Regions from separate parts of the Homo sapiens genome. Here region 2 is linked to region 1. A link means that fine-mapping ties the variant in region 1 to the expression of a gene that starts in the linked region. Tissue or cell type: whole blood. Region 1 holds a variant in brackets; the other region holds the start of a gene. All regions are shown on one strand. Distances are from middle to middle. Region 1 holds the start of LOC105376137 (a long non-coding RNA gene). Region 2 holds the start of SEMA4D (semaphorin 4D).

The links.
Region 2: it holds the start of SEMA4D, and the variant in region 1 is fine-mapped to the expression of SEMA4D in whole blood (INTERVAL, PIP 0.96).

The regions. Positions count from the first base shown.
Region 1 is chr9:89,522,909-89,539,317 of GRCh38, forward strand. It overlaps LOC105376137 (a long non-coding RNA gene), which reads left to right and starts at 1,189. Exons shown (of 3, transcript XR_930102.3): 1 at 1,189-3,582; 2 at 3,984-4,116; 3 at 4,924-8,554. RefSeq lists enhancers at 113-222, 9,344-9,513, 9,346-9,515, 12,846-13,015, 13,285-13,454 and 1 more and a cis regulatory region at 16,232. The variant C/G (reference allele first, on the strand shown) is at 9,573.
Region 2 is chr9:89,494,679-89,505,054 of GRCh38, forward strand. It overlaps SEMA4D (semaphorin 4D), which reads right to left and starts at 3,435. Exons shown (of 16, transcript NM_001371194.2): 1 at 3,241-3,435. RefSeq lists silencers at 2,755-2,904, 3,335-3,524.

The sequences.
Region 1 (16,409 bases):
ATGATGTGCAATTCTCCCCAATGTCAAAAGAAATCCAAGACCTGTGAAACTCGTAGACTCAGTGAGGAAAATTTTTGACCACCTGCAGTGACTGGAACTACTTCCCTGAACTGCTGGAGCTCTTAGCGTAGCTAGTCAATCACTCAGGCCCTGGCTGGCTCACTCCTTGTCCTGCTGCTGGCCTTGGGTCCATCCACCTGATCATCCTCACTCTAGCATGATAGCAGGTGAGGACATGGAGGTGGTCAGTGACTCAGCAGGATTCTGTTGAGTAGCTCCTGGGTAGATATTCATCAGATCATTTTTCTTTGTTATTAGATTTCAAAAAAATATATAATAAGAGATGGGGATGCCAATGGAATAATGGGATAAGGGGTTGGAATGTTGGGGTACAATTAGCTTTACTGGTCATTTATTCATGCTCTTTCTTTGTCTAATTCCAGAGATAATTGTGACTTGACTTTATTTAGAATTCCAAACACAGACCTTGCCTGAAATAGGAAGCCAGTCTAACATCTGGAATCCCCTGATTATACTCATGGAAGACACTGTCCTTTTCCTATTTAATGGAATTTCCTCATTTCCTTTCCTGCCAAAAGAATCCAATTTTGCATTAAAGTTGCAGGCAAAGAGCCCTTGATCTCAGAGAAACTAGGCGTCCTGCAGTCCCTTTGGTTTAAGCTATTTAGCTGTAGCAACCCCCTTCCCTTTGCTACCGATTGTTATGGGGTGGCACAGAACCCTATTCTGCACGTGGAGAGGTAAACAGAAGTCAGCTGAAGCCTCCAGGTCTTTTTCCCTATGGCTTCCTTCTGGTTTGGGATGCTCACGTGATGCCTGGAGCTCTCATAGCTATTTTGTAACCAGGAGGTAAGCAGTGTATGGCCCTAAAGCTCTTGTGCTGAGAGTGAAAACTGAAGGGCAGGCCATGCCTGGCTTGGAGGACATCATTGAGCAATGGCGCCAGCTCTGACTTTCCATGTCCAGGCCACTTCTGTGGCATCCGTAAGTGTCACAATTATTGAAGCCCCTCTGAGATGGGCGTTCTCATATTTGTTGCCAAAATCACTTTTATGGAAATATTTTTACAAAAATCAGCCTAAGTGATACTTTACACAGACATATTTATTCCTTTTCAACCAACCTAAGCCCATGTTTTCATTCCTTTCACTGATGATCTCATCTGTCAGCAGAGACAGGAAGGACAGCTGGAGGGTGTCACCTCCACATAGGTCCCAGACAGACAGATAGGAGGAGGTTGAAAGCGGCCCATTGGGCTCTGTGGGTTGCAGAGGGAGGTGTGCTAGAAGGAAGGATTTGGGGAAGCAGCTTATTCTGCCCTTTCCTTCTGGGCTGCATCCTGGGCTGAGGGTCTTCCCGTGTCAGCCAAGAGCAAAGGGTAGGGAGGCTTTTGGACAGTCAACATCTTGGGTCTCAGAAAGATACCTCCTCTCTGGGGACCCCCACTACTCCTCAGGCTCGCTGGGAGGGTGGGCAGCGTGGTGCTTCTAAAACATGTTTGCAAATTCTTTAATAGTCCTCTGGCCAAGAAGTGCAGCCTGTGTTCCTGTCCTTGAACCCAGATGGACCTTTGTGTGAGTTCTGAGGCTCAGATAAAAGAGGCCACACTTCTGTGTCCAATGCCCTTGGAACACTTGCTCTGGGAGCCTCCATATAAAAAGTCAGAATTCAGAGGACTCCAAGTGGAGAAACCACATGGAAAGACCAGAGAGAAAGAGACAGACAGACAGACAGAGGAGAGAGAGACAGACAGACCCAGAGAGAGAGAGACAGAGAGAGGGAGAAGAGAGAGACAGAGAGGAGGAGAGAGAAGAGAGACAGGGAAACAGAGATACACACAGAGAGAAAGGAGAGACAGAGTTGGAGAGAGAGAAGAGAGAGGGGAGAGAGAGAGAAACAGAGATAGAGACACAGAGAAAGGAAAGAGTGAGAGTAAGAGACAGAGAGATACAGAGTGAGGCAGAAAGAGACAGAAAGAGATAGAAAAAGAGAAAGACAGAGACAGACACACACAAAGAGAAAAGAGAGACACACAGAGGGAGAGAGATGTAGGAGAGAGGGAGAGAGATATAGGAGAGAGAGAGTGGGAGCTGGCTCAGCTGTCCTGTCCCCACCGCCTGGGGCTGGACCTGTGAGTGAAGAGGTCACTGAGATGGCCCTGCCCGGCCTCAGTCTCGGCTGCAGCCCCCTGAGAGAAAGCCTGGATGAGCTCCGCCTGGTCTGATGGAGACTCTGGCAGGGTCAGATTCATTCTGGGAATGGAAGAGCTCAGGCTGATTGGGTTGCTGATGTCTCCATGGTTACCTGGAGTCACTAGAGAAAGACAGCCTCATTTGAGTGGGATTCAGGGTCTGACCATCCAACTCTGACTGCATGTGTGACATGCGCTGCTGCTGTGTGTTTGGCTTTTCCACTCGTGTCCCCAAAATCTCCACTCCAGCTACTGAAGTTTTAAGATATTGAAGACTCAAGCAATCCCCTTAACATCAGCAAAAGGCTGGGATGCATCCAGGAAGCTAGGCTGTCTTTTTGCCTTGGGGGGAAAACGCCGGAGCCTCCTAAAATTCAGTGCCTTCCCTCTGAGCCCGGGTTTCGCTGCTGTAGGGAGACTGACAAGAAGGCTAAGGACAGATGGAAGGAGAAAGCCATGAGAGACACCGGAAAGTGGAGAAGATAGGGGATGCAGGTGTGAAGACTGGAGGAGGAGCGCTGCTGGAGGCGCAAACTGTCGCTTGTGTTTTTGAAAAATGACTCTCTTCAGAAGGCCTGCTCTGAACACGCCTTCCACAGCACAGGGTGGTGGACAAACAGGCGCCTTCCCATTTGTCCAGGTGGAGAGGTGACTTCAAAGCTTAGGTGTGAACGTCCCTGTGGAAAGTGGGGCCATTAAGCCCCAGACAGTGTGAGTGTGACTGGTGACTTGAGTTCACAGCGGTTTGGGTTCCTGTGGCCATTTCCTTTAATGACACATTTGCCTTATGAATTGTTATCTGTAATTTCTGAGGAGACAAAGACAAAAGCGGAAGTAGTTGGTTCCAAAGATTTAACCATTTCTTCCATTTCTCAGTGTTCATGACTTCACGAATCATGAGGAAGAGGAGAGGACATGGAAGAGATGGCAAGACAGCAGGTCCTCCGGCTGTGCAGTGGGGAGGGCAAAGCGGGGCGCACGGCGAAGAGGACCAGCCAGGCCCGGAGCCCCAGGCAGCGCCTCACCCAGCTGGGGTAGGAAGCACAAGGGCAGGAGCAGAGAGCCTGCTTCCAATGCTGCTGGTTTGCCCTGAGTTTCAAAGTCCACGACCCAGGACTGGCTGACTTCGTGGGAGGATTTAACCAAGAAGAAAAACTGGAATTTTGAGATTCCAAAGCCTTCCACGAAACTCCTTGAATATATTTGTATGGATGTGCTACTCAAAGTTTATATGATTTTTGACCCAATAATTTCATTTTCCTATACCCAGATGATTCCCCCAGAGAGAGCATAAGAGGAAAACAAATCAGAAGGTCCAGTGGAGAGCTTCTACCCTCATTACCAGCTCCAGGGACGGGGATCTGCACCTGGTGAGAGTGAGGGGCAAAGGCATCAACTCTTAATTTTCCAACTTTGAGGAAATCATTCACCAGTCCGTCACAGCCCCCACTTTTATTTTCCAACTTCTCACCCTGTTTTCAAGGGCTCCTGAGTGAAACCATTTAGGCCCTTTCCCTCCTCTTTGCTCTCTCTCTGAGGCAGCCTGAGTGGTTCCTTCTCCCAGAGGGGCCCTGGGTCTTTCCAGGCATCTGTCGGGGCCCAGTCACTCTCCTCCAACTGGAATGTTCTGCTCAGCATTTTTTTCTGGTTAAAACTCAACCTATCGCCATGATATTCCTTTTGGGGGACAATTTGGCAATAGGTGTGTCACAATTTTACAGGTGCAGTCCCATTAGCTGAGAACATTTATGAGTCATTTCTATATTTACAGGAGTGCAAGATCCACGAATGTGCCTGCATGCTGTATACAATGGTAGAAAATAAAGAAGGCCATCTGCATGTCCCAAGTTAAATACAGCATGGCCCAGCCACACTGGGATACATGTAGCTTTAAAGAGAAGTAGGTAAGTATGCCCAGATATGGGAAGATGCCTAAATTAGTAATCAAAGGCTAACAATATAACTGTAAGCTAAGCAACTTGAAACAACCAGCATTTATTGTCTCACGGTTTCTGTGGGTCAGGAGTCCAGGTACAGCTTAGCTGGTCCTCCACAACCAAGGTGTGGGCTGGGGCTGCAGTCACATTTGAGGCTCGAATGAGGAAGGACCTGCTTCCTCACTCACATAGTTGTCAGCAACATTCAGTTCCTTGTGTGCTGTGGGACTGAGGGCCTTATTTCCTGCTGGCTGTTGGCCAGAGGCTGCCCTCAACTCTTTGTCACAGGGGCCCTCTTTATGTGGCCACTTGCTTCCTCCAAGCTAGCTAGGGAGTGTGTCTCCTAACAAGACTGATGTGATCATCTTATGGAGCATAATCATGTACATCCCATCATCTTTGTCACTTTCTATGGGTTAGAAGCAAGTCTGTGTTCCAGGGGAAGATATTATGCAACGGAGTGCATATTAGGAGGCAGGGATCATGGGGGAGGTGACCATCTTAAAGGCTATCCATAATATATCCAGAATATATTTTTAATTAATAAAAGGCAAATGAATCAGAACATAGAAGGGATGGGTAGCTAACTACAAAAGATTCTACAGCATTGACTTATTGCTGGGAGTGGCTCCCAGCCAGGACCCCATTCCTCAGCACCCATGGACTGTGATCTAGGGAGGACCAAGTGTCTGGTTCTCACCAATGGAACATGAGTGGATGGGGTGAGTGTCACTTCTGGTCCAGAGGATTAAGAAGTGGATGTGACTCCCACAGTCTCTTTTGCCATCTGCCCATTGAATTGAAGAGAGTCACCATTGAAGATGTGGAGCTGCCCAGTGAGTGGGTCCAGGAATCCCTGCTGGGAGGTGAATCACCCAAACAGGAGCGCCCACATGGATGGAGATACGCACAAGAGGTAAACTTTTATTTTGTTTAGCTGTGGAGGCTAGGATTTGGTTATTACAGCAGCAGCTAGTATACCTTCAATAGTATATACGGTTTAGTATAATCTGATTCAAATATCTGTGCATAAGTGTGTGCAGTTATGGATGTATGTTGCCATACGCACTTTTCATTCTCTTAATTGGGTAGTCAGAATTCTTCAATGTGTCTGCATAACAAACTATTCCAAAACTTAGAATCATAAACAATAAGCATTTCTGATCTCTCGCAGTTGCTGTGGGTCAGGAATTTGAAAGCAATTAGCTGAGCGGTTGGGGCCGCTGTCTCATCTAAAGGTATGAATGGGGCTGGAGGTTCCACCTCCCAAGCAGTTCCTCATACAGCTGGGCAGTTGGTGCTGCTTGTGTGTGGGAGGCATGCAGACCTCTCTGCCGGGCTGCTTGAGCGTCCTTATGGCATGGCAACTGGCTTCCTCCAGAGTGAGGAATCCCAGAGAGAGCAAGGCAGAAGACTCAATGTTTTATGAGCTAGCCTTGGAAGTCAGGCACAATCATGTTTGTGATGTCTGTTGATGACACTGGTCAGCCCTATTCAATGTGGGACAGGACTACACAGAACATGAAGAGGGAGAGGCTGGCTACCATAGGGAAGTCACAATAGAAAAACACCTTGATCTGAATCTCAGGGTGGGGCATGGAAACGGAAAGGTTTAAGCAAAATAAACAAAGTGAAGAACAGGCTCAGCTGCTCTTAACGGGAGCGGTGATGCAGGCTTTTGTATACCGAGTGAAGTCACACAGGGAGAGGAGTCACAAGGAGGGTTGCAGAGGTCAGCAAGGCTGTGGTGGACATCTGTGGACACGGTGACAGAGTGAGCCTCAGGGCTGCTCAGTGAAGGCCAGAGATGGTATTGCAGAATCAGGAGCCCAGCACAGAGATAACCAGGACAGCAAGCCCACAGACTGCTGAGTGATTCGGGAATTGATCCTTCCCTCATCTCCAGGGAGCTGGAGCAGAAACCAATGGTGTATTTGTGATGGGGATGGTGGGTCTCACTCTCAGGTATCATGTGGAAGGAGAAAGAGGCTGCTCCTTTAGACTGCACTCATATCTGAGTGGGTCATCCTCTAGGCTTTGGAGATTCAGGTACCTGCTACCTGCTGTGTCCAAGGACTCCCAAGTGAAGGGTTCGTGATTCCCGGGTTTGGGGGTGGTGCACAGGAGAAAATGTCAGCATTTTCATTTTCTCTCTAAAAACCAGGAACCCTGCCCTGTGCTGATACTGAGTGTGCACCTGCCCTCCGGCAGCCCCTGTTTTTCCCAAGCCCTGTGACTACTCTCCCCATCATGTAAGGGACAGATAGCTTAATAATACTCCTGCCAAGAGATGGCAGAATAAAGATTCTATTAATCATTTCTCTGGCAATGAGACAATGGCAGAGCCGACACTGTAGATCTCACTGGAGCCCCACGCACATGACAAGAGCAAGAAACTGTTTGAAAGAGAGACTGACACCAGCATTGTCAACACAAACCATGCCCTGGGTATGCTGCTCATGGAGTGTTAGCTAATGCAGTATTAAGCCAGCATTTTTAAAAAAAACTTATTTTTTAATTTTAATTGACACATAATAGTTGTATGTATTTATGGGATACAATGTGATGTTTCATTACATGTATATATTGTGTAATGATCAAATCAGGGTAATTAGCATAACCATTACAACTTCATTACTTCTTTGTGGTGGGAACATTCACAATGCCTCTCTTCTAGCTATTTGGAGATATACAAGAACTTATTGTTAGCTACAGTTACCCTACTGTGCAGCAGACACCAGAGCTTATTCTTCCTTTTAACTGTATCTTTGTACCCGTTAACCAACATCTCCCCATCCTCCTCTCCCCGCTAGCCTTCCTGTCCTCTGGTAACCACAATTCTACTCTCCACTTCTATGAGCTCTTTAACTCCCACATATAAGTGAGATCATGCAGTATTTCCCTTTCTGTGCCTGGCTTATTTTGCTTTATATAACATCCTCCAGGCTCATCCATGTTGCTGCAAATGACAGGATCTCATTCTTTTTTCATGACTGAATAGCATCCCATTGTGGATATGCACCATGTTTTCTCTATCCTATGTGTCCTTGATGGACACAGGTTGATTTCATCTCTTGGCTATTGTAAATAGTTAAGCTAGCATTTTTAGCAGAACATTTGGAAATAGTCTTTCAGGTTTATCTTATCTTTTAAAAGTTTTGGTGTATGTTTTGTAATGTGTATAATACATACAGTAGTTATGTGTATATAATAAATTTGCATAGATATATGTATATTGACTTTTTACAATTAACAGTGATGTAGTTCAGAAAATGAGATGCCCTGTTTGGGTGACTATTCTGTCTCAGGTGTTAGGTTGAATGACCAGGTGGATAACTGTCTAATTTCTTGCTGGTCCACAGAGACAACTGCCCTTTATCACCTCCTCCAGAGCACAGGTTGAGGGCAGCTACAGTCACATAGTGCTTGAGAAGCAGCCGGTGAGGCCATTCCTGTATCACTGGCCCTGAAAGCCAGCTCTATGCACTTTTCTGTGCCGAACAGATTGTCCTGGAGAGTTAGCTTTTTGTCTACTAATCTCTATGCTTGGAGGTCTTTGTGGAATGGAAGTTTTCTCATTAGCAGGCAACACAATGAAAAACTTCCAATAACTGCTCTTAAAGACTTTATCTGGGCCGGGCACAGTGGCTCATGCCTGTAATCCCAGCACTTTGGGAGGCTGAGGCAGGCAGATCACCTGAGGTCAGGAGTTCAAGACCAGCATAGCCAATATGCTTGCCGGGTCTGTCCCACAGACCCTGGCCAATCGACGGATGAACGGGGTACTCAGACACAGGTATGCAGTGGAAGAGCAGCTAGGGGACTTCCAGGCTCTAGTGGCCAAAGTACAGCATCCTCGAGAAGCTGGAGCTGCTTGCTTTTATTGAGTGCAGGCACAATGCTAAAAGCCTGAAGCAATACACAATCTGTGGGTAATTAACATTTATTGTTCCCCTTTCAGGGAACTTATGGAACTTATGGCGGATGATCACAGGTCAGCTCCTGGCCAACATAAGTAAACAAGCCTGTTTAAGATAAATTTCCCTACAATCCCTTGTACCTACTCCTTGCCCTCTGCCTCAGGGTTAGAGAACAGCTGTCTTCAGCTATTCTCCCCCGAAACTATGCAGAGCCTTCTGACCTTTCAGAAGGCCTGCTCCTTTCCCTATAGTTTCTCCCACCACTCTGACCAACCTCCTAAACATGATGAAACCCCGTCTCTAAAAAAATACAAAAAATTAGCTGGGCTTGATGGCAGGTGCCTGTAATCCCAGCTACTCAGGAGGCTAAGACAGGAGAATGGCTTGAACCCAGGAGCAGAGGTTGCAGTGAGCTGAGATCGCACCATTGCACTCCAGCCTGGGTGACTGAGCAAGACTCCATCTCAAAAAAAAAAAAAAAAAAACACCAAAGGAAAAAACACTTTATCCTGCCAGGAATAGAACTGAACCAGGAATCCATGAAACAAGAAAAGCAACTCTGGGGGCCCCTGGGTGAATCTCTGCTCCTAGCTGGGTGCCATCCTTCCCTCATGGGTCCAGGAAGCTTCTACTGTCAGGGCCTGAAAGACAAAAAGGGGTGCACACAGAGCCAGGGGTTCAATCCCATTTATCTCTGGGGTCATGCTTTCTGCTGGACATGGTGGGCTTAGGTGTGTGAACATGCTTGGACCAGACTTGAGTCAGAAGAAGAATCATCCTCCAATTTAGCTATGAGAACAGCACTGTTCCTGAGTGGTGAGAGTCAGCCTGCATCCCTCTGGGGCCTGGAGTCCTTGCAGGGATCGTGAACTGCTTCCATGGTCCCCACTTGGAGTACAGCAGGACCTGGTGCCCAGAAGGGGTGGCCATTCATGTGGCAGGCTCACAGCCTCTCTGCTAAGCACCATCTCTCCCAGAGCCGGCAGATTTTCCACGGTGGTGCAGATGGCCTGAAAATGGCCAGGATTTGGGGCCTCCACATCTCCATGGCTCAGCCCCAGCCAGCAACCAGCATGGGCATCCTAGCCTATGAGTGGCCACCTGCTTTCCGTGTGATGAGAGCACACATCAGTTGCAACAGGGTTGCCAGGCTTAGCCAACAAAAATATTCTCCTATGCAATATTGGGGATATAGTTATACTAAAGTTTATTTGCTGTTTATCTGAAATGCAAATTTAACTAGGCTGTCCGTATTTTATTCAACAACACTAATGACAAGGGCTTTGAATCTGAGTTCTGCTATCTAGTGACCTGAGAGCTGCCTGAGCTCTCTGAGACTTAGTTTTGTAGTCTGCAGAATGGGAAGGACAATGCCACCTCTCTGAGCTATCCATGTGGCAATATGCAAGATGGGAGAGAATCTTCCAGCTGAGTGGCTGGGGTCTTGGCCCACCTGCCTCTTGTGTTGTGCAGGGGAATGCAGCTGCCCAGCTCCATGTGCAA[C/G]GAGAACTCCAGTGGAACAAGGATGGCTTGTAATGATGCTAGTGACAAAGGTTGCCATTTATAATTGGAATTCCTGACCAAGGTTTCTGTTCAGCACACAACAGCCCCTTCATAAGTGCTGGGTGCAGTCCACACTCTGTCATTGCCACCGTCGGCTCTCTGGCTTGAAAGGCTCTGGGAGTGCCAGTGAGTCAATAGTTCCTGTTTGATGAGAGCTGCTTTATCACTTCCAGGTAGCCCTGTCCCTCACCATACTGCATAGGGATGGAGTCACCCTGGTGTTGGGCGGACTATGGCTCCAGGCCCAGCAGTTCACAATGATGGCATGAAGGCTGTGATGGTTAAAAGGGGTCAATTTGACTGGATTGAGGGATGCCTGGATGGCTGGTGAAGCAGTTTCTGGGTGTGTCTGTGAGTCAGAGGACTGAGAGGAAGACCCCCTCTCAATGTGGACGGGCGCCCTTCTGTCAGCTGGGGGTGAACAGGTGGACAAGGCAGGTGGAAGGAGGATGGATATCCAGCACTCTCCCTCTCTCTCTCTCTCTCTCTCCCTCTTCTTGAGCAGGAGGCTTTTTCTCTTCCTGTCCTTGGACATCAGACTCCAGGTTCTTTGGCCTTTGGACTCTGGGATTTGCATCAGCAGCCTCCTGGTTGCTCTCAGACCTTTGACCTAGGACTGGGGGCTGCACTGTTGGCTTCCCTGGTTTTGAGCCCTTCAGACTTGGACTGACTTTTTTCATAACCCAGCCTGCAGATGGCCCAGCGTGGGACTTGGCCTTTGTAACTGTGTGAGCCAATTCTCCCTAATAAACTCCCATATATATATATACATATATCCTATTGATTCTGTCCCTCCAGAACCCCAACTAATACAAAGCCTTTCTTGTAGTCTCTCAGGCATGCTCCTCACTCCTGACATAGGGACATTATCTAGTCTTCACCCCTAGGGAAACTCACCCACAGCTTCACAGCAGGAGGGCACGCTGCTTCCCACGAGGCTGGTGGACTCCAGCATAGGCATCCTCAGCCCTGCACCAAGTCCTCAGCCTGAACAGACATAGGAGACAGCGCTGCACATCAGGAGGCTGGGGGTGCATCCTGGGAGATGCCTTCGGGCCAACTTCCCTGGAACTTTCCAGTTGCCATGGTGACAGTCAAAATCGTGGTGATATTTCAGGTGGTTGGCAAGACACGGAGTCTGGGACAGCATGCTGCAGGCTGATGTCCCTCTGATTCAGTGTCTGTGGCTCTGTGCTGGGAAGGATGGGCTTGAGGAGAGGGTCAAGCAGGGCTGGAGAGGATTCTCCTGGGCCAAGCAGATAGCTTTGCCCGGAGCTGTGCCAGTCAAACCTGGCATCTCTCCTGGAGTGTGTAATGCGGTGGCAGTTTGTGACATTAGGGAGGAGGTTGATTGATTATGGTTTGTAACAGGTCATCCAGGAACAGCAGCCATTGTTTTAATGAAAAATCCACATGGCTGATGATGGAGAGGAATGTAAATTGCCTTGGAGGACAGCGTGGGCCTTGGGAGTGACCCAGTCCAGTGAGATTCTTACCAGCTGCCATGTGACCCCCTGTGCACTGTGCGTTCATTGCTGCTTGTCAGAAATGCCTTCTACCAGTTAACTGGGTCCTATTTTTGATGTGATAGCTAGATTGGTCTCTGTTTTTTAGCTCTCTTCTCGAATGGTTTTCAGAACTCAATTTCCTTTTCTTGCCTAATTTTCATCAGGTGATGGTCTTATGATTAATAAAGTAATGTTTATCCATTGTAGTTTAATAATTTTAAAAATAATATTTGTCAGTTAGAAAATAAGAAACTCATAGAGGAATAATCAGAATCACTCATGATTTCCATCCAGGGGTCGAATGCCAGACCCCAGATCTTGCCCCCACTCCACCCTCCACTGCCAGGATACTAAAAGCTGCGTTTCCTGCTCATGTGGGAAGGGGGGCCCAGAGTATGTGGGGTGGGGGCAGCAAGGGCAGAGTCCATGAGGGCCTTATGTCTGATTTGAGGTGGGGCTTAGCGAGGACGGGGTCACTGTCTGGGCTGATGGGGCAGCCAGGTGAAGAGTTGAGGTGAGGGATGCGCAGCCTCCCAGGGGCCAGCCGTCTGTGGAGGTTTTCCATGGAAGGATTGATGGCTCTTTCGGGAATCTCCTGTTGTAAATAATTAAGCTGCTTGCTTGCACCAGAGTCTGCGGAAGGAGCTGAGATGCTGACAGCAGGGGGCGGAGAGCCAGTCCTGCCTGCAGATGAGGGTGTGGGGGTGTCTGTGTTGTGGGGGCTGGATGGCTCCGGCTCACACAGGACATATATGAACACATGGTAACCTAATAACTTTGCATGCGTTAGCTCAGGTCATAATTTATGACAGCTGAAATGGACAGCACTAAAAAGGACATGGGAGATGGAAAAACCATTGCCTTTTGCGCACCACACTCCTGCTCACACAGTTCTAGGGTGTACACACATACCTGCGCATGGAAAGCTGTGTGTGAGACTGTGAGTACATGTATGTAGGGCTGTGTGTATGTGTGTAGGGCTGTGTGTGTATGTGTAGGGCTGTGTGTGTGCGTGTGTAGGGCTGTGTGTGTGTGTGTAGGGCTGTGTGTGTAGGGCTGTGTGTGTGTATGTGTGTAGGGCTGTGTGTGTGTATGTGTGTAGGGCTCTGTGTGTGTGTGTAGGCGTGTGTGTGTAGGGCTGCGTGTGTGTGTAGGACTGTGTGTGTATGTGTGTAGGGTGGTGTGTGTGTGTATAGAACTCTGTGTGTGTGTATGTGTATAGGCCTGTGTGTGTGTAGGGCTGTGTGTGTGTGCATGTGTGTAGAGCTGTAGGTTTGGTGTGTGTTTAGGGCTGTGTGTGTACAAGTGTATAAGGCTGTGTGTGTGTGTGTGTAGGACCCTGTGTGTGTCTGAGTTTTATTGGGGTTGTGGGTGTAAATAAGTGCAGAATATTTAATCAAGGCAATGAGTTCTAATTTCCTTTTTAGATGAAAAATTGCAGTCTTTACCTTGTCAGGCAAGTGGAAATGTGATAAATGTCCCAGTTTCCGCACAACTGTTGTTCTGTTGACAGCTGTCAAGTTCCACCTGGCACACTTGGGGCTGCGCTGGCATTCTGGCCTTGCCTCACCTTGCCCTCAGGTATAGGATGTGCTCATGGTGCCCCATGGCAGCGAGACCTTGCCCTGCTTCACACCCTCTGAGCCCCCAGGGACCCCTGGTTGTCTCAGCTCTATGGACACCCACACCTGCCAGGGGGGTCACAAATGGCCAGCAGGTGAGGAGAGGCACCAATTGTCCTTCAGCCACCAGGAAGGAAAGTCCTTGAAGGAGGGCACCACCTCCAGGGGCTGAGGATGTCATAAAGTGATTGACTTTAAAGAACCCAAAGACAAGTGCAGGGTCCTGAGGAGGTCTGAGGTCCCAAGTGGGGCCAAGAGGAAGGGGGAGAGGGTGGGAGATAGCAGGTCTGGGAGATATCCTTGGGACCCCATGAAGCAGGCCTGACGAGCGTGCAGGAAGGAGAGTGCTCTCAGTTGTGGAGGAATCCATATACAATTTCCAGGACATTATTATTTATCCCATTTGGTGTTACAATTTCAGAAGAAGGAATTAAAAAATCACAAGCAAAATAAAACAAACTACTCAATCATCTGAGTAAAGTTCTGAGTGCACAGTGTGATTTCATCAGATAGAAGGTGATTTTGAAAGATGGGTCTCAGAGTGAACAAACAGGAAAAGAAAAGGGGATCCCGGCACTGGTGTGAGCTAAGTTGCTTGGGTGCATCCGTAGCAAATGGATTTAAAATACAGGCATTTAACGTAACACTGGAGAGTAAGACGTAATGGCATCCAAAGCTATCCATGGCATAATATTACATGAAAATATGGAAGTTGGAGCACACATCACCCCTCACATATGTAGGTGTGTCTATGTGCAGAGAAAAGGCAGGAAGGAAGTGGACAAACTTGCTAGAAACGGTTAGATGTGGGAGGTGAGAACACAAAGTGGTCTCCTTTTTTTCCTCTCTCTTCTTTCTCTTTTGTTTTTGCTTCTCTGTGTTTGCCTTTTACTTTTTTTTTCTTACAATGAATATATATATATGTAAAACCACACATATATACATATGTGTATATGCATGTTTTAAATAAGGAAAGCAATATAAGAAAAGACGTTTGGGAAATGTCTACTGTATATTGACTTATGCATGGTCCAGGACCTTATTAGTTACCTTATCTGATGTGTTCAACAGTTCTCTGAAAACTGGTAACTGTTCTTATCAGTGTGTAGGCTGAGGCTCACTGGCTTGAGCTGTCTGTCCCCAGGCAGCCAGCGTGTAGGTGGCGGGCCTCCTCTTCTGGTTGGGTTGTGTTGATTTCACTGCCCCTCCACCATGAAGGCAGGGTACAGCCTGGCAGCCTTTCCACCCTGACCCAGGACAGTGGGGAGAGCTCATCTCAGTTCTGTGATCATTTCTGCGCCTGATTTCCAATTAATCTGGAAGCCGAGTGCCCTGCAGGCTGTGCCTCCCCATATGGGCTTCAGAAGGCTCATGGAGTCTCCGTAGAGAACATCAGCAAGTGACCAGCGAGACCTTTGATGCAGGAAGGTGATGCTGATGGCCGCTGGGCCTTTGCTTTGGCTCAGTGTGCCTGCTGGAAGGGCGTCTGGGGACTGTTCCCAGTGAGGTGCCCAACCAGGAGAAAGCTCTTTAGAGTTGCTGCTATGTCAAGGGCAGGACAGGCCTTTGCAGAGTGCTGAGCCATAATCCAGGCGCTCCCTTGGCTTCCTGTCTTCAGAGCCCAGGAGAAGCCCGGGTAGTTTTGTTGTAAATAAGTGACATTTGATCAAGACCAGAAAGACACATGTCGTTGGGTTATGCCTGGCAACCAGATTCCTCCAGGCTGTTACTCAGGGCCGGCTGTTCTTTATTATGGGATTTATCATGTTGAGGGGGAAGAAAATGCAATTCCTGCTCTTCTGAAAGCACACAATGTGTTTCCATGCCCTGATGTCATTTATAATCTATGGCAGGAAAAATAACTTGGGCATACCTTTTTACTTGGTTCCTAACATTGCAGTGGCTCATGACCAAGATGGAAACTGGCTCTCAACCCTCGTGCTCAGAGCGTTCCACATGGACACCTGTTTTTGTCCTTGAACTATGAATTTCATAGTTAGTAGTGGCGTCTCAGAGCCCTCTGGGAGTGGTCATTAACAGGGATGGGCCATTTGGAACCAAATGAGACTATCTTGCTAAATTCAGCCAACATCAAGCACCAAGATGCACAGGACCTTGTGCAGGTAGCTGCAGGGACCTGACAGGAGCAGCCCCTCGCCTACAGCCATTGCGAGCCCAAGGGAGCTGGGACTCCTCAAGTAACCAGGAGCTGCCAGTTTGGGCCCAGGTTGGTTGCTGCTGTTATCTTGTGCCTGAGGGCCTTGCCTTCTCCTAGACGTGAAGCTCTTCGGAGGCAGAGGTCTTAGATTTTCCTGTCTCATCCCACAAGACACTTTCCTGAGTGTAGTAGGTGTGCAAAAACACCCTCAGCATCCCCACTCCCTGTACACACTGCTCCTTTTAAAGCAATCCCTGCTCCACGGCCCTGTGAGCCTGTTTGTTGGGCCCAGCCTGCAGGCACAGTGAGTCTGGTCTCTCCTGGCTAGTATTATTACACAGCATTGATGTAACACTGAGTGTCTGGCAGTAGCCTCCTGAGGAGTAGATTGACCTATAAAATAAGGGAAAACTGTCCTGAGACCCACCGGCAAGCCTGCAGCACTGCCTTCCTCATCCCTGGGGTAATGGGCTTTGCAGGCAGAGCTGAGCCTTGATCTCCTTTCCAGTCTCTTGGCAAATTCTGGAGCAATTGTCATTTCCAGTTCTTGGATCCTTAAATGGCAATGATGCTATATTTGCCGCAAGGAGGGCCCAGATGCATGCATGGGCCTATGTCTAGGTGCATACATGGGCCTGTGTTCAGGTGCATACGTGGGGCCTGTGTCCAGACACATATGTGGGCCTATGTCCAGGTGCGTACATAGGCCTGTGTCCAGATGCACACATGGACCTCTGTCCAGATGCATAGGTGGGCCTATGTCCAGATGCATATGTGGGCCTATGTCCAGCGGGGCTCCCTCTATGCAGACTCTCCCACTTAGGCTTGCTGGTCCCTTCTACACTCCAAAGGGTGAGTGTGAGGCCCCAAGAAGAGCAGGGCCCTGGTGGCAGGGAAAGCCTTAGGGGATGGGATCCTGTGGTGGGGAGCTGTGGTCAGAGATGGCTGAGTGACCGGGTGGATACTCTTTTAGGCTCCGTTCCACCAACTGGGGTGCTCCCTCGCATGCCTTTTGGGGAGCCTGAGCCTCAGTGTGTGCAGTGGGGTGATGGGCATGGGGGCGAGGGCTTCCCTGAGCGAGCGGGGAAGGTGCAGGGACCACCCGGTGTCTGCAGGTCACCAGCAGAGGGACGGGCTCTGTAATGACAAGCCCTTTTTGTTGGCAGGGCCCTGGCTTTCTAAGGTTCTTGGTGCCTCACAGCTGCTGAGGTTGAAGTGGGGTGTCAAGTGAGGCAGATGTTTACCTGGTAATGAAAGGCAGGTGGGTGGGGCAGGGTGGCTCCTGTCCCCGTCTTGCCTGCCAACGCCAGGCAGCTGCCTGTCCTTGTCACCTACCACCTTCCTTCCCTGGCTGCCTCTCCTTGCTCTGGTGGACCACAGGGGTGGGCATTGGCATGCAGGAGCTGGTGTCGTGGGGACAGAGGCTGGTTAGACAGCGTGCAGGGGAAGAAAGATGAGAAAGTGCTGTGTTGGTCTCCAGTCCTCTTAG
Region 2 (10,376 bases), 31 kb before region 1:
TTTTCAAAGTGCATGCAAGTAGGCAGAACAGAACAAAGAACCCAGGTACTCTCATCCAGACCCCAAACTGTCCACTCAGACCATCTCGCCCCTTCTCATCCCCTCTGCTTCCCCACCCCACACTAATCTGAGGCAGATCCCAAACATCATTTCATCTACCAACACTCAGTATCTATTGCTAAAGGGTGAAAGTTATTCTAACATAACCACGATGCTGTGATTAAGGAATTCCTTAAAATCATCATTCACTCCACAAATGTCCATGAGACACATCAATAGCCTAGTTTTCAAAGGAGTGATGCTTGGATCAAATGCTGATCCAAGTGACAGCCTGGATCAGGCTTTGATCGAAGCCAGAAATCTTGGGGTGCCACTTAGATGTGATCCAGGGCAGGGATGCAGTCATTGCTTTCATGGGCAGCATCTGAAACTTCTGGACCAAATAACAGGACCCTGCCTGCCCCCCACTGAGGTTTGCACAGGTGCTGTGGGAAGGCGGCTGCTGATGCCCCAGGGGAAGCAGCAAGGCAGTAGAAAGCTGGGGCCCCTGCTGTGACACCCCCAGCTAAAGGCAAATTCGCTCAGGGAGGGTCACAGAAGCTGAAAAGTGACCCACAAGCAGCAAAGCAATTTGCTTATCCCAAGGATCGCCTTAACTAGTGCACCTAAAACACCACCCAGCTTCCAGGGAAGGCCCTGGCACACCCTCTCCACCTGACTGAATCAGCAGCTATCTCCTCCAGCAGCCCTGGACCCTGGACGGCAATGGTGATGGGGATGGGGATGCAATGGGCAGGGCTGAGGAACTGCACCTGCCAAGCCCAGGGCGGACCCTGGCCCAGGGAAGAGAGGACCCACCCCAGCTGCCTCTGCCACCTCCCTTCTCACCTTCTAGTCTTCTTCCTGGAATTGTCCAAGTTCAAAGAAGAAATAACTGCCCTGGTTGGGAACAGCAGGCAGCAGCCTTTCTCTCAGCAACTAGGCTCGACAATCAGCCGACGGCACGTTTATTTCTATATTTTCACGTGGCAAGTTTCATCCCCATGGGTCCTAGCTCCAACCCTGGAGCTCTGGCTCCAGGGGTCAGGAGGAGAATCTGCAACCACCCTCCTGGACCCGCCCATCCCTCCCTCCCCAACAGAAATGGAACCAAGAGAGGCAGAAGCCTGAACAGCCTCAATGCAGAAGCACAGAAGATAGAGAAAACCATTGATCTTTGCAATGCATTATTGATTTTGCTGTTGTGCTGTCAGCAGCGGACGTTCCCTCCCTCCTCAGTCAAAGCTGGCCATTAGCGTGCACTCCCAAGCTTTGGCCTAGACACACCCGCTTGGTGTGGGGAAAGCGGCTCTAGGTAACATCTGCCTCCAGCGGTCCACATGGAGAGGACTGTCCACAAGTGGATGATGTCACCAAGGACATCTCCCTGGCCCCAGACCCACTGGATATCAAATGCAACATGGTCGCTGGTCTTGCACTCTAAACCTCAGCCCAGGACCCCAGGCACTCAGGGGGGTCTGTGCAAGGCTGCATTTTCAACAGACTCTGGGTGTGCTTCTCAGGAGGTGGGCCCCCTCCCATGGAGTCCCTCCCTTGTGCTGTGCTGCAAGACCTTGGGCTGGCATGGCAGCTGGGGCTCTGCATCCCCACGGTGGCCTTTTGCCTGTCTGCACTCTGAAATACAGCCACTGAGTTCCACCGTCTACCAACTCCTAAGCGGCCCACCCTCCTGGGACCCCAGGGCTGCTCCTGGCACCAGTGATGTGTTTCTATTTCTTTGTTTGACTCGCTGAGTGTACCACGTACACTCTTCTCAGTCTGAAGGTCTGGCCTTATGGGAGGGCAGTCTTTGCTCACAGAAACAGGCCAGTGCATCCCTCATCTTCCCACCCCAGCCTCCCTGGTGGGTATGCTGAGCCCGCCTGCTTTCTTCTTCTGGCTGACGACTACCAAGACATGATATACGCAGACACCAACTGTCAAAATGACAATCAGGGCATTATCATCTCTACCAGAATCCTGCCCCTGCACTGGCCAGAGCTGCCTGTTTCTGGGACACAGTAAACATTCCCAAATAACCTCGCCTGGGCAGCCAGCAGGCAGGCCCCAGGCCTAGGACACATATGAGGTGACAGGCCACTGGTGTCACGTCACCCCCAGGAAAGGAAACTTCCGTTCCGTGGCGCCTGGTGGATTTGAAAAGACTCAGAACAGCAGGGTGAGATGCTTGGCCCCAGGCCCCACGTCCAGCTTGGCCTTCGGGGGCCTGGCCACCCACGAGCCTGGGATGTGCTCAACACAGAGTGAGGTTTTCAAAACAAAAGCAAAGCAACTTCATGTGGAAAACCTTCCGGAAAGCAGGACCCAGCCCTCGACACCAGGCCTCATTTGACGCAAACTGCCCACTTACAGACTCCCATTCACCCACTCTCCCACCTACCCCCCAAAATACTAAGCCAGAAAATAGAGGACAACCACGAGTTCAACTCTCCTTTACACGTTTTTACTGGCATAACCCCAGTAGAGCCAGCCCCTTGCAGCTCACTAGGCGGCTGCAACAGGTGCAGCCCAAGCTAAGGCTTGTGGTTCTCCTGGGCTGTTCTAGAATAATGCAACCAAAACCCGAAAGGAAACCGAGGCCTGCAGCACTCACTGCCAAGGCGGCGACCTGACCACTGCGGCCCAACCTGCCCCACCTGTCTGAGTGCGCGGCGCCGGGTCCAGTGCACAGGGTCCGCGGCCTCCGCGACCAAAATAGAAGCCCGCGGGGGCCCGGCCAGAGCCCGGCTGGCCGGAGTGGGGCCTGACCTGGCGGGGCCGGACTGGGCGGGCCGGGGCGCGACGGGGCCTGGCCGAGCGCACCGCCCCCTCCCTGGCCCGGGTATGCAGCGCGCCCCCGCTCCCCCGCGCCCAGAGGAGCCACCTGCGCGCAGGGACTGGGGAGGCAACCGGGAAGGGGAGAAGGCCGGGGAGGGATAGCAGAGAGGTCCAGGGGGTCGGAGGGGTCCGGGTAGGTGTCTCTGGGAGGCGTCCCAGGAGGGGCCCCGGGGGGATCCAGGAAGGAGTCCAGGGGTCCGGGGATCCCAGAAGGAGGCTCCTGCAGGGGTTCGGGGAGGGCCCCGAGGGTCCGGTGAGGAGCCTAGGGGTGTGGAGTGGGGGCTCCGCGGAGGGTCCAGGCCGCCCCCAGCGCACCTGCCCGGCCCCGCGCGCCCTCCCTCCCGCGCCAGCCCGGCCGCTTACCTGCAGCGCGCGTCCTGCCCGCGGCGGCTCCCGGCCGGGCGAGTTCGGGCGCCAGGAATGGCGGCGGCGGCGGCGGCGGCAGCGGCGGGAGGCGGCCGGGCCGGGGAGGGGGTGGCGGGGAGGCCCGGCGGCGGCAGCGGCGGCTGGGATGCTGCGGCGCGCGAGAGCGCTGAGGCCGGCGCGGGGACGGAGTGCGCGGGGCGGGCGCGCAGGCCCCTCCTCCGCTCCCCCTCCCTTCCCGCCTCCTCCCCTTTCCCTTCCCCTTCCTCTCCCCCTTCTTCTCTTCCCTCCTATGGCCCCGCCCCTTTCTTCCTCCTTCCTCCTCCCTCCTCCTCGCCCCTGCTCACCTCCCTCCTTTCCCTCCCCCAACCTTTCTTTTCCTCCCTTCTCTTTTTCCTCCTCTTTCTTCACCTTCGCAACACTCTTCCACCTCTCTCCCCTTCTCCCCACTTTTGCTCCCCACTCCTTCCTCCTCACCTCCCATCTCTCTTGCCTCCCCGCCAGGCCCAGAGGGTTGTCCCTCAGCCCTGGGTTGGTCTCTGCTGAGTCAAGCACCCGTTCCCAGGACCAAGAGGTGCCCTGTCACCCTCTTCCTCACCAGCTCTCAATAGACAAGCTTGCCCCTTCTGGGGTCCTGGATGAACCCCACCCTTTCCAGGCCTCCCCCAAATCCCCCAGTTTTTTTTCACCCCCAGACCCTGGGCCAGCTCTTCTGAGAACCTGACCTGCAGTGTGCGTGAGGCACGTGGCACCCAGAACACTTGGCTGCTGACTTTGGGCAAGAATATTTCACACCAGGCTGCTCCCATTCCCCAGGGGAGGGGCTGGCACCACCTGGAGTCTTGGTTTCCCTGAACCCCCGTGCTAGCCTTTTGCCAAACGTTCATCATTTTCCACTCTGTATGGCAAATGGTCCTCCTGTGAGGCTGCTGGTGAGACTTGTTTGTGACTAGCCCATGGGTTTGGGGATCTGGGGGCCCTCAGAGATGGTGCTGCTCCATCCAGACCTCTTCCCTCTGCCCCCAGGAGAGGTGACAGGGCTCGCACAGTGACTGGCCAGGCTGGGAGGCCTATTGAGGAACACAGTCCTGAGAAGGGGACACAGTTTCTTACGGAACCAGCTAAGATTTCCCCTAAATGTGAGGAGTTGGGGAGCCCCTCTCCAGGCCAGGTGATACCTCCCTGGACTACAGACTGCTGTTGAGGGGCAGGGGCCCTGAGGCTGTTTTCCTGCTGAGCACTGGCTCTGAGAGCCAGAGTTTACAAATGAAGCCAGTCCCAGGCCCAACAGTCACAGAGTTAAAGGCCCAACAGTCTCAGAGTTCCGTTCTAGGGCCTCCTGTGGTTTCTGTGGTTCAGTGCCGGAGCTCTGAGAATAGGGCTTCGGCCCAGCAAAGGCTAAGATGGCAAAGCTGGTGTCAAGCAGGGTGGGGTGGAGCACGCACCCCCTCCTCCCTCTACGGCATGGCAGCCACCACCCTCTTGCTGAAGAATCCAGACCTGGAATCTGATAGACTCCCTTGACTCACAGCTCTGCAGTTTCCAAATAACCTCAGGCCTCAGCAAACCTCTGTACCCTGCAACATGAGGACAGTGTGGTCGTCCTGGAGGGTTTGGGGAGCACGGAGAGAGAATGGCAGGTAAAGCCCACTGCACCGTGTGCTCGGGTTCAGTGCTGGTGACTATTACAGGAAAAACTAGAGAAGTCTTTTCCAAGCTCTTTTCCAATTGTAGGGGTCCATGAATCCATGTTCCACATCCCATTTGGATTGAAACATAATGGGAACGGATTAGGACAGAACTGGTTTAACAGCATTCTATACCCAAGGAGGGATGCACGCTTAGGATCTACACATGCAAGCATTGCACTGATTGGGGTGGGGTGGGGGGACTCTCTTTTATTCCTCACTAGTCAGACACATCTAGAATACCATGCCCTTGCTTGGTGTCTAAGGCAGCCAGCAGTATCCCGTGGGAGGGGAGTTGACCCACCGGGAGTCTTCAGCCTAGAAAATCAATGTGTGGAGCACAAGACAGAAGAACCCCAATATGTGCAAAACTGTCCCGGGAAGAAGGATTACTCTGTGGTGTTATGAAGGGCAGAATGAGGACAGATGGGTGGAAATTAGATGAGAAAGTGGATTCCTGCCTATCGTGGGCGCTTTCTGACAGACCTCACTGTGGAAGAGCCGGCTGCCCCTACAGGAGCGTGCCCTTCACAGCCAGCGTCTAGACAGGCCTGGGGCCACCTTGGGAACACACTGCAGGGAGGGGACCAGCAGCAGAGGGGTATGCTTCTCAACAACTGCTGAATTCTCTCCTGGCTTTTAGACCCACATGCTCAGAATCTAATAGAGGGCAGCCCAGGGCAAAGAAGAGACTTTGCATGGCTGTCCTGGGGCCCACACTTCTGGCATCATGACCTTCCAGAATACTGTCCTCTCTAGCCTGTTTCCTAATGCATACAGAAGAACATGAGAGAATTCAGTAAAAACTCCAAAAAGCTTTCCGCAATGCCCAGGCTGCGAACACAAGGGCTTCTTTGCACCGTGCTTATATAAAATTGCCCCCAAACATGTTTATTGCATTCATGAAGGAGACAGGACTCTTAGTTGTAAGTGATAGAACTTCAGCCCATACTATTGGCTCACTTGCATCCAAAGATGCCCCAAGTACCATTAGAACCGGGACTTGGATGCCATTATTAGGTCTTCCTCTTCCCTCCTCTCTGACCTTCTTCCCTGTTCCCTTCTCTCAGCATGATTGCCTATGTCTCCCAAAGTGACCAAGCTTGCCTTTTTATTCTTGTTTCACACTCTGTCGTGGGACATTTCAAACATAGATATAAAAGTAGCAGGCTGGGTGCAGTGGCTCACGCCTGTAATCCCAACACTTTGGGAGGCTGAGGCAGGCGGATCACCTGAGGTCAGGAGTTCGAGACCAGCCTTGCCAACATGGTGAAACCCCGTCTCTACTAAAAATACAAAAATTAGGTGGGCATGGTGGCACAAACCTGTAATCCCAGCTACTCAGGAGGCTGAGGCAGGAGAATCACTTGAACCCGGGAGGCGGAGGTTGCAGTGAGCCAAGATCATATACCACTGCACTCCAGCTTGGGCGACAGAGCAAAACTCAGTCTCAAAAAATAAAAATAAAAGTAGCTAAATGAACTCCAATCTTGCCTTACCTCTCACCCCCTTACTTTCCCCTCCAATATTAAGTTCAAGCATATCAAAGATCATATTAACCAATCTATTTCCTAGTTTCCCCAGAAATGCCAAGTGTTTGGATACTGAGACCATGCTTTGCAAAGTTTCTCTGCATTTCCCAGCCAGAATGTTGACACCATCTATATGCATATGAGCATAGTAACTGGATTGATAATAGTTAAGTCCCATATGAGAAAAAAACTCAAGTATGGCAGCACAAATAATACTCAGCTTCCAACACGGCCCAGGTGGATATGAGGAGAGAGGATCCTCTGCTTCCACTTTGCAGTGCAGGAGGGAACAGGCACGTAGTGGGCTGGGAGCCGTTTCCAGATCGCCCAGTGTGGAGCCTTACGCAGTGGAGGAGGTGTCTTCAGAAAGAGTCGGCCTGCCGCCTCTCACCTGTAGTGGCATGCAGAGTGTCCAGGCTAAGCTTAGAGAGAGAGTCAGCACAGCAAGTGGAGAAACGGGGTCCTCTGAGGGACTGTGGGAAGGTTGGCTCTGGGACCTGCCAGCAGCTTCTAGAAAAGTCCGGGGAGATGTCCTTTGAATGTGACCACACTCTGCAGAGACGTGGGTGAGCCACACCTCCACTGTTACCATGCAGTGGCTGCCAAGACCATGCTGTGACTCCTACTCCTAGCTCTGTTCCTCCCCGCACCCCAGAAAAGGCTGGTAAGAGTGTGGCCTTCCTGGCCAGCCTCTCCAAAATAGAGAGTCCACACCGGTCTCTGTCAGGCACCCTGATTGTTAGAACATGTCAATGAAGGAAGCCGAAAGGGATTTTGAAGGCTCTGAGATCCCCAGGCACCTCTAGCACCCTCATATGTCCTTACTGCCACTGAGACCCCCACAGGACCCACAGAGCTCTTTTTGTTAAAGCCACACTTGGAAACGTGGGGTCACACCAGCAGAAGCATAGAAATGAAGGCCGTGCTGAGATGTTATCATTGCTCTGTGCTCCTGCACAGCGTTCAACTGTCAAACCACTAAGTGCTAGATAAATCTGGTGAAGGGGTGTAATCCATTTTTGGTGCACACACTCATGGCAGCACTTCCCACATCACTGAACATGCAGAATGGTTTACCAAGCCATCCTTCGTCATACTGGGGAGTGTACAGGATGCTGATGTGGCCCCATCTGACCATTGATCTAATCAGTGCTGGTGTCTGCTGGATTAGACTTGCCCCAGCAAGTGAACTTGCCCCAGCAATGCCTTTCTGACCTTTAAGGTGACTGCTGTCACCAACTGCCAGACCATGGACCTCTTCGCATCCCTGGCTGGCTGGCAGACACCCACTTATGTGTCAAGGCTCTGCCCTGGCATCATTTCCTCCAACACAAACCCATGCACCCTGGGCAGAGCTAATATCCCCCACCCTGCTCCTCAGCTCGAATGTCACCTTACACGTCACTTCCTTGGTGCCTGCACCAGCTTCCATTATAATTGTTTGTTGATAGTTTTCTTTCTTCTCTGGTCTACATTTTGAACTTCACAGAGTGGTGAGGTCTACAGAACTCTTTTCAGAGTAATGTGTTTAAATGCATAAAGTCAAATACAGGATTCAAAAGGAAATGAATTATACTGAAATCCAGCTACCAAAATACTTTAAAATGTGATCTACTTGCTTCTTTTTTAATAATATGCTCTGGCGGCAGATCTGATAGCTGTAGTTTCCAAGTCATGATAAGTCAGCCGATATTTTAAAGTCTGTAACGAGCATGATGTGATGTGAGAATCGCTGTGATTTCTGCTGAGAAGTCCTTACATACTGCTGATGTGGCTGTGTTTGTTGCCTGCATGTACACCCGAAGGAAATGCTTCCTTTCAGTTAGAGGTTAGTGGGGAAAAAAATGTAATTCTTTTCTTATCATCCTTCCATCTGGATGGACCCTTCAAAGTTGATCAGACTAAGAATTACTATTTTAAAGGAAAGGGACCTTGTATCTCCAGCATCTTGCATAGTGCTTTATAAAGTTGCCATCAAACATGTTTATAGCATTAATGAAGGAGACAGGACTCTTGGTGGTAAATGACAGAAATTCAGCTCATACTATTGGCTCACTTGCGTCTAAAGGTGCTCCAGGTACAGTTAGATCCAGGGACTTGGATGCCATTATTAAATATCCCTCTTCTCTCGGCTCTCTGACTCTTTCCCTCTTTCTCTCTGATTGGCCCTAGCTCTGTTTGGGTGTTGGTTTTATCCTCTCCTGTCACAAGGCTCCTGGCCACCAAACTCTAAAATGATGACAAAGACTCTTTCTCTTTATATTGCAAATCTCATGGAAGAACTTTGATTGGCTCTGTTGGCTCTCATGCCAATCCCATTTACCCAAAATTCCAGAGAAGGATGAGAAACCACAACCGGTCAGACCTGGGCCACATGCATATGCTTGCAGCAGGTACAGTTCACAATCTCACAGAACTGCAGGGCTGTGGGAGAGCAGTTCCCTAATGCACAGATGAGTGCTAAGCAAATAGAAACAACATGTGCCCAGGTGTGTTCAAGTCAGAGGGCAAATGAGCAATCACAGAGTGTTTATTTGGATGCACGATTCCCTGCTATGATAAAAATCCAGTGGTTTGACTGAGACAGAAGTTTATTCATTTCTTATATAACATTATCAGAGGTAGACATGTGGACCAGGACTGGTGGGGAGCTTTGCTGTCTCCCATTTGGATGTTACCGTCCATCTAGCTGGAAAGAGGAAGAGTATGATCAATAGATTTCATAGGCCAGGACGAGTGTGATCAATAGATTTCAGTGCAATACCAGGAAGTAGCACACATCACTTCTGTCACATACCATTGACCAGAACTTAGTCCTGGGCCCACATGTAGCTGCAAGGGGGAGTTGGAAATGTAGCTGCTAGTTGAGTGACTATGTAACCAGCTAAAAGTCTGTAATTAATATATTAAGGAAAGGAAAAACAGATATTCATGGACAACTAGGTGAGTGCCATGCTCACTGTAGTGTCATTAGTGCTACTATACATTTAAGTGGAAAATTGCTCACCTACTAGAATGTCTAAAATTGAAAATAGCAAGTGTTGGCAAGGATGTGGAGCAGCTAGAATTCTCATACATCTTCGCTGGGAGTGTAAAATAGTATGGCCACTTTGGAACATACAGAGCAATACTACTGAAGCTAAATACTCAAATGCTCTATAACCCAGCAATTCCTCTTCTGGATAGAATGCACAAAAATAAGTGCATATGTTTACCAAAACACATATATAAGAATGCTCATGATAACTTCATTTGTTGTGACTCCAAACTAGAAACAACCCGAGTGTCTATCAGTAGTAGAAAGACAAATAACTGGTGGTAAAGTCACCCTATGGAATACTACAAAGTAATGAAAAAGGGAAAGAACTCCACGTAGCAAAAAGGTGAGTCTCTTAGACATAATTCTGAAAGAAGTCAGACATACACAAAAGAGCCGCTACCGTATAATTCTGTCCATAAGAAGTTCTACAACAGCAAACATAACAAAGGGATCAATGTCAGAATAGCAGTTACTCTTAGGTAGGTTCTGAATTAGAGAAGGCACAGTGGGAGGCTGAAAGTGTTGAGTATCTGGACCTGGGTGGTGGTTACCTGAGTGTATACATATGTCAAAATTCACTGGCCGGGCGCGGTGGCTCACGCCTGTAATCCCAGCACTTTGGGAGGCCGAGGCGGGCGGATCACGAGGTCAGGAGATCGAGACCATCCTGGCTAAAACGGTGAAACCCCGTCTCTACTAAAAATACAAAAAATTAGCCGGGCGTAGTGGCGGGCGCCTGTAGTCCCAGCTACTTGGGAGGCTGAGGCAGGAGAATGGCGTGAACCTGGGAGGCGGAGCTTGCAGTGAGCCGAGATCCCGCCACTGCACTCTAGCCTGGGCGACAGAGCGAGACTCCGTCTCAAAAAAAAAAAAAAA